2 linked regions of the Homo sapiens genome follow. The protein of the gene in region 2 purifies or fractionates together with the protein of the main gene of each other region. This does not show direct contact. Each region holds a gene or a part of one and is shown on either strand. Other genes may lie near its edges. The genes, in order: CA10 and WDR89.

Evidence for each region.
Region 1: the proteins of WDR89 (region 2) and CA10 purify together in Homo sapiens (co-immunoprecipitation; one large-scale study listed by IntAct). This does not show direct contact.

Annotation. Positions count from the first base shown.
Region 1 is NC_000017.11:51,633,986-51,637,814, forward strand, and holds part of CA10 (carbonic anhydrase-related protein 10 precursor), read right to left. Parts: intron 2,025-3,829; coding exon 1,870-2,024; intron 1-1,869. UniProt on the Homo sapiens protein: Does not have a catalytic activity.
Region 2 is NC_000014.9:63,596,580-63,600,408, forward strand, and holds the end of WDR89 (WD repeat-containing protein 89), read right to left. Parts: intron 3,395-3,829; coding exon of another isoform or gene 3,364-3,394; coding exon 2,200-3,363; 3' UTR 460-2,199; downstream 1-459.

The sequences.
Region 1 (3,829 bases), on a different chromosome or scaffold from region 2:
TCAATAATTCCATGACTCCCACATGGTATTACGTGGATCATAGTGATTGGTCCATGGGTCAGAGCTAAACTAAGCTGGACCAGTTTGGTTTCTTTTCTGTGAGACTATGAGGGCCAGGTGGCTGGACTGTTTGCAGCCATGTTCTGCCACAGGACTGTGAGGCAAAAGAAGACGGTCTCTAGCAGGAGAGAAGAATGAAGTGAATGTGTGGTGAGAAGAGGACAACAGAGAGAAAGCACTTCTGGGGTTCCCATTTCAGTGAATTTCTGATGTCAATTTCTGATTTTAAATTCTCTAAGATGCCCTCGTAGCTCTCAAATAAATGCTTTTTCTAAGCTTAAGTGGGGAGTTACTGTTGCCTGTCACCCAGTGGGTCCCATTCAATACAGATAGGTTAAGGAACTTCAAATTGTTCAAATGGTGGTCAGGTGGGAACACATATCCCGTCAAGGATATTGGCTTCTGCTTCCTTTGCTCATCTCTCCTTTAATTTGTTATAGACTCCCACAGTCGTAGAATGTCAGAGCTGGAGCAAACTCATGTAATTTATCCCCCTCTCAATAAAGAAGAGGAGTGTTCATTTCATAGAGGTGGGTGACAGGCCTGAAGAGCACAATAAGCCGTGTAGCCAAGCTCACACAGGAGGACCCATCTGCCTCCCATCCAGTTCTGATGAGTACTAACTCTGTGAGATGATCCAAAAAAAACACTGCACATTCAAATATGTGTGCAAAATACTACATATCATACCACTTCCTCTTGAAGACTGACACATATATTAGCATTTAAGAAGGACCCCAGAAATCCTTCAACAATGGAATCTATTTAACTTTTTAAAACCCAACTTTTTCAAATGCATAATGACATCTTCCATTTTGCTTGCTTGCTTTCTGAACACTGTAGTTGTAGAATACACTCTGGGAATTAATGGCTATCTTTTCCCACTGAGACAGTTGAGATGCTTCTATAATTAGCTCAGGCTAAGCCTTTTGGATGCTGGCTCTTTAAACCCAGGCATATGGGTTGAATCGTGTACCCCTGAAATTCATAAGCTGAAGGTACTGGTAACCCCTAGTTGCTCAGAATGTGACCTTATTTGGAAATAGTCATTGCAGATGGAATGAGCTAAGACAAGCTTATTGGGGTTAGGCTTTAATGGAATACAGAAGGTGCCTTTATAAAAAGGGGAAATTTGGACACAGAGCCTCAGACACAGGGAGAACACCTTATAAAGATGGAGGTAGAGGCTGGGTGTGGTGGCTCACGCCTGTAATCCCAGCACTTTGGGAGGTCGAGGCAAATGGATTACCTGAGGTCAGGAGTTCAAGACCAGCCTGGCCAACATGATGAAACCCCATCTCTACTAAAAGTATAAAAATTAGCCGGGCGTGGTGGCACGTGTCTGTAATCCCAGCTACTCAGGAGGCTGAGGCACAAGAATCGCTTGAACCCAGGAGGTGGAAGTTGCAGTGAGCCAAGATCACGCCACTGCACTCCAGCCTGGGTGACAAGAGCGAGACTCCATCTCAAAAAAGAAAAAAAAAAAGATGGAGGTAGAGCTTGGGGTGGTGCTTTTAAATGCCAAAGCACGTCAAAGATTGTCAGCAAACCACTAGAAGCTAGGGGAGAGGCATGGAACAGATTCTTCCTCACATTCCGCTGAAGGAAGCAACGCTGCTGACACCTTGATCTTGGACTTCTAGTCTCCAGAACTGTGAGGCGATAAGTTTGTGTTAGTTTAAACTACCCAGTTTGTGGGACTTTGTTATAGTGGTCCTAGTAAACTATTATAATAGGCACTCCACATTTCAGTGATTTTTTTTTAACATCATTCTTCTCCATTAGCTAAATGACCAGAGAGAAACTCACCTGCATCCTGGTTATATAGACAGGTTTGTTCATTATGATCCAACTTGCTGTCTCATAGCAGGGTGGGATAGTCATCGACCCATCGTAAGTGATGAAACTAGAGGTCTCTGGATATAGTTCCTCTATATTAAGCCCCTGTAGTAAATATGCATCATCTAGAGAAGGAAAGAAGACTTAAAAATTAGGTTTCTTGAGAAAGGGATGGTATTGCTGACATACATACATACATACATACATATACATATACATATACATACATATATACACACACAGATATATATGTATTTCTTTTGGAATTCCAGAAGACTCTATCTGTCAGAACAGGCTGCAGTAACAAGCAGTTGTCCCCCAGATCTCGGTTGTTTTAAGCAATAAGAATGTATTTCTTGCTCACACACATGATCATTCCAGGTTGGCTGAGGCTTCCCTCCATGTCATTGTCCATGCTTTGGGACCTAGACTCTTAGAGCAGTAAACACCTGGACCTGTGCGGATCACAGTGACAGAAGCGAAAGCATGGCGAATGTGTGTTGGTTCTTAAAACTTCCATCCCAGAAGTGGCACACATCACTTGTGCTCATGTTTTGGTAGCCAAAGAAGTCACATGGTTAAGGCTGATGTTGGGGATGCGAGGAAGCACATTCCTTCCACAGGATGGGGCCCTGAGCATTGGTGAGCTGTAAGCAATGCGTTCTACCACAGGGATTGTTTGAGGAGTCCTTGATTCTAGTCCCTGAGATCTGGACTCCTAGGCATTACAGGTATCATGAGATGGACAATTAAAGCTTCTAGACCTGTTGAAATTCACCTGGTGACCATTCTCACTTAAAACAACAATAAGAAAATATTTTTGGATAGAAAAGTAAATCAGGCCAAATCCTACCATGAGATTCTATGGTTAAGCTCAACAACTGATTATTTTGTGTGTGTGTGTGTGTGTGTGTGTGTGTGTGTGTGTATTTTTCTCTCTCTCAGGTCTATGCAGATAGCCTTTTCTCTTACACCAATTTGAGGTATTCATACCCATATATCTTCTATTACTAAATACAGTAATTCAATGGTAAAAATGACATAAGTACATCACAGACTATATGGAAAAAAGAAAAAACAATTTCAGTCATCTAAAACTGTTACTATTAGCATTTTGGTGTGTTTCCTGTTAATTTTTTTAGTCAATGTATTGGTTGTATTTTTGATAAAATTGTGTGTATTGGAGTTTTAAAATATCAGTTAATTGCAATGTATCTCTCCTCTTCTCCCCTCTTCATGATCCTTCTTCCTTTCTTTTAGCACGTGATTGTTCTCTTCTGCTGGCTTCAAAAATACCATACTTAGTATTCCCATTTTTCTGGCCATTCTCTCTCAGGTTTTGTTGCTGTCTCCTGATCTTCTACCTGCTTCTCTCAATGATGCAATTCCCCAAAGATCAGTCCAAGGCTCCCTTCTTTTCTTACTCTATCCTCTCATCTGAGAGTAGCTCATCTACATCCATGGCTTCACTTGCCTTCTGCATCCCAGTGATTCCAGATCTATATCTCTAGAGGTATCACATCCCCAGGCATACCATGAGCACCCATCACTGTGGCCAGTCCAGGAGACCTGGAGAACACATGGCAGGGTCCCAAAGCCTGGCTGGCCGAGGGATGAGACTGACTCTCCAGCCCCATGGATGCACACATGTTCTCTCGTCCATGTGTCTAACTCCCAGTGGGAAAGTACTCATTCTTCAGGGGTTGAGGGAACCTCTTCAGTTTAGTATTGTGCACATATATGGTAAAGGAAGACTTTCACATATGGCTGGAACCTCACATTGACTCAATAAAATGAGTCAGGCAGATAGTAACATCCTCCACTGACAAGAAACTAAAGATCAGGGAGGCAAAGTGGGCTGCCCAAGGTCACAGGGCTAGCTGGTGACTGCAAAGTGGAAATTAGAACTCAGCTCTTCCGACCTCCAGAC
Region 2 (3,829 bases):
GGTTTAGTCAATGAGAGTTTGGTTACAAATGGATACTTTGTTAGCTGTATCAATTTGGTTCCTGAGGTTCAGAGAACAACTAGGAAATATTCATTTGACAAGGGATATCTCAAAAAATTTATCATCTATTTGCTGCATGAGTTTGGAGAGCTGTAAATTCAAATAGGTAGGAATCTGTCCTCAGAACTCTGAAGGCATTGATCCACCATCTTTTGTCATCCAGATTTGCTAATGAGTCTAACACAACTGTAAATCTGTTCCTAAGTGATTTTTTTTTTCCGGACACTTGCAGGATTTTCTATTTACTCTGAAACTTCACAGTGCTATGCCTTGATGTGGATCTTTTTCATTCATTACACTTGACACTCTGCTGTGCCTTTCAATCTAAAGATTGAAGTTCTGGAATAGCCACTATATTAGTCCATTTTCACACTCTATAAATAACTGCCCAAGACTGGGTAATTTATAAAGGAAAGTGTTTAATTGACTGAAGAGTTCAGCATGGCCAGGGAGGCCTCAAGAAACTTACAATCATGGGGGAACGCAAAGGGGAAGCAAAGCACCTTCTTCACAAGGCTTCAGGAGAAAGAGTGAGGAGTTAAAGGGGCAGAGCCCTTTATAAAACCATCAGATCTTGTGAGAACTCACCCACTATCAGGAGAACATCGTAGGGGAAACCACCCCCATGATCCAATCACCTCCCACCAGGTCTCTCCCTAGACACATGGGGATTATGGGGATTACAATTCGAGATGAAATTTGGGTGAGGACACAGACAAACCATACCAGCCATTTATGTTATTTCTAATAACCCACTGCCCCCATTTCTTTTTTAACTTTTTTCACTTTCTAAAACTGTTAGTCTGGTTTTGACCCCTGTATTTATCTTCTGTGGCTTTCATCTTTTCTCTTTGTCTCTTTCAGTTCTACTTTCAGGAATATTTTCTCACCTACATCTTCCAACACTATTAATTACTTTTGAATTTTAAATATTTTTAATTTTAAAAAGCCCTATTGTTTTAATAGTTTCACTTCCAATTGTTTTATGAATGCGATTTCTCCAGATATCTTTCAAACTAATTTTTTTATTCACTAGATAGCACTGTCTTATATTTTAAAGATTCTGAAAAACACAATTTTTAACGCTTATGTAGTCCGCCATCAAAACATCAATGTACTGAAGATTTTAAGCAGCATGAGGCACCATCACGTTTTTGTTTCTTCCCCCTCATTTCCCCGCCCCTACCAGATCTGTTTTTGATGTTTAGCCTAGAAGTAGCAAGAAGGATGAACTGAAGCAGATTAGAGATCGAGCTGGTAATCCAGATGAGAAATAATGAAAGTCTTCTCTAGGGTAATAGTGGTGAGGTAAAGGCAAAAGGATAGCTGACAGACGTTAGGAGGTGAAATGGCACAGGACTTGGTGAAAAACTGGTTAGGAGAAGAGGAAAGAGAAAAGCCCAGGTTATCCTCAGATTTATGGTTTGGACAACAGGAAGAATAGCAATTTCTCCAAGTCGAGTCCTATTATAAATATTTTCATTTTTGTATTTCACTTTGAGTCTCAATTTACCAAGATAACTTCCTTTCAATCAGCAAAACACCTGTTTACTACTTACTAACAATATTAAAGATGCAAATATTTACGAAACATATTTTTCTCACTTTACATAGATGCCTATCATTTCATTTGTAAAAAAGGTTAATTCTATTTACTCATTAAAATACTTACATTTAAATACTCCAGCATAATACATTAGGTGTATTAAACATATAGATGCTCCTCAGATGAAGAATATAGTCTAATCTGGTTTTATACACAATAAAGACAATTTAAAATGTAAAAAACTGGGCTTAAAAAATGCAGCCAACCACCTGTTTTATTAAGTTTTACCAAGTATTTCCTTCTAAAAAGTCCTTATCGGAGCTATTTCTTTAAAGCCAACATTTACTACATTAACAGATGGGTTCTTTAAATAAGAAATTTTACTTTCAACTCACTGATTTTATACTTAGAGGCTTTAAAATTTTTTAGAATATGTGAAGACCGGAATTAAACCATTCTCACCATATTTTTCCAGGACTGTTTGCTAACTGGCTTGTTTTTACATAAAGCTTTAAACATGTCTACCATGGGTAGTAAACAAGAAGGACTATTTGAAACTATAAAACCTACCAAACAAAGTGCCAAATGCATTATCACTGCTTTTTCCTTCTTTTATAAGAATCATTACTATGAACTCGTACTCGTTGGTGCACAGAGGATGCTATTTTCATACTCTCTTTCTTTGTAAAGGTCTTCTCTATAGCTCCAGGTTTCCAAAGTAACAACTGTGCATCTTCTCCTCCAGTCAACAAAGAATCATCTTGCACATTCCAACAGAAAGAACGGACTGTAGCAGCATGCCCTCCCTGAAGGCTAGTCACATGGGTCAGTCCTGACATGCTGCAGTTCATCAAATGAATCCTTCCTTTGTTTGTTCCTCCAATAACATGCAATGTGTCTGTCTTTTCATGATATAGGCCACCAATCAAATAGTCCAAAGCATCTTCTTTCATGTTAACTACTTCTCTGACATCCTGGATGTTCAAACGTGTAACTGGTTCATCAGTGTCCAGATGATTAAGATCCCACCAATAAAATCCTTCATCATGTGTCATGCAGTAAATCTGTTTATAACCTTTCCCAGACCAACCAATACAGCTTACTGATGAAATTGAGTTACAGGTTGTAACCAGTGCATCCTCCTCATTATCAATATTAATATCAAATACATTTACCAGGCCATCAGATGAACCTGAGACTACCATGTTGGGATTGCTGGGATGGAAACGTACTTGAGTGACATCATCACTATGTGTCTCTGAATATGCACCAAGTGAGTCTTTAGTTGTAGATAAATTCTGAGAATTCATCCTTGCATCCCAAAACACCAACAATGCATCATCATCAACTTTTTCTGTACCAGCACAAATAATATGATCATTACAATTAATATCAAAACTGATAAAAATATTGGAAGGGTAACCCTTGAAGAGCTGAACAGGTTTTTCTCTGGCTACTCGAGCATCCCAGCATTTCACAGTGCCATCAGTACATGCTGAATATACACTGTCACAGGAATTTGCAAATCTGACTCCATTAAGAAGTCCAGGATATCCACTAAATTCTCGTAGTACATTTAACCTTTCTTTATCATATATTCTGATTGATCCATTAGAACATAAAACAGCAACCAAGTTTTCCTTTCCTGCTTGGACAGTCTTTGATGTGTCTATACCAAGAAGGTAAGTGGGCTCTTTGGTTCCTAAGGAACATTTAACAATGTGCAGATTAGCAAATTGTTCCTCAATCTTTTCCATGTCAACAGCAGCATCCAAGGGTAGTAAAACTCTGTAAAAAATAATAATAATAAAAATAAAAATTAATGCTTAACAAGGGAGACACATAAAAAAATTTAACTTGAAGTTTCTCTAAAATTGCAATTAAATCAAGAACATTTTCCTCTGAGGGCTGGCATGAATCAATCAATCAACAGAAATGTATTCTAATACTATAATCATTTCCTTCCTATGATGTAACTAAAACTCAGTTGCCTTCTAATTCAATCACTCTTTAATACTGAATTCACTACCAGGAGTGGTGGCTCACACCTGTAATCTCAGCACTTTGGGAGGCTGAGGTAGGAGGACTGCTTGAGGCCAGGCATTAGAGACCAGCCTGAGCAACATGGGGAGACCCCCCCGCCGTCTCTTCAAAAAATAAATTAGCAGGGCATGGTGGCCTATGCCTGTAGTCCTAGCTACTCAGGAGGCTGAGGTAGGAGGA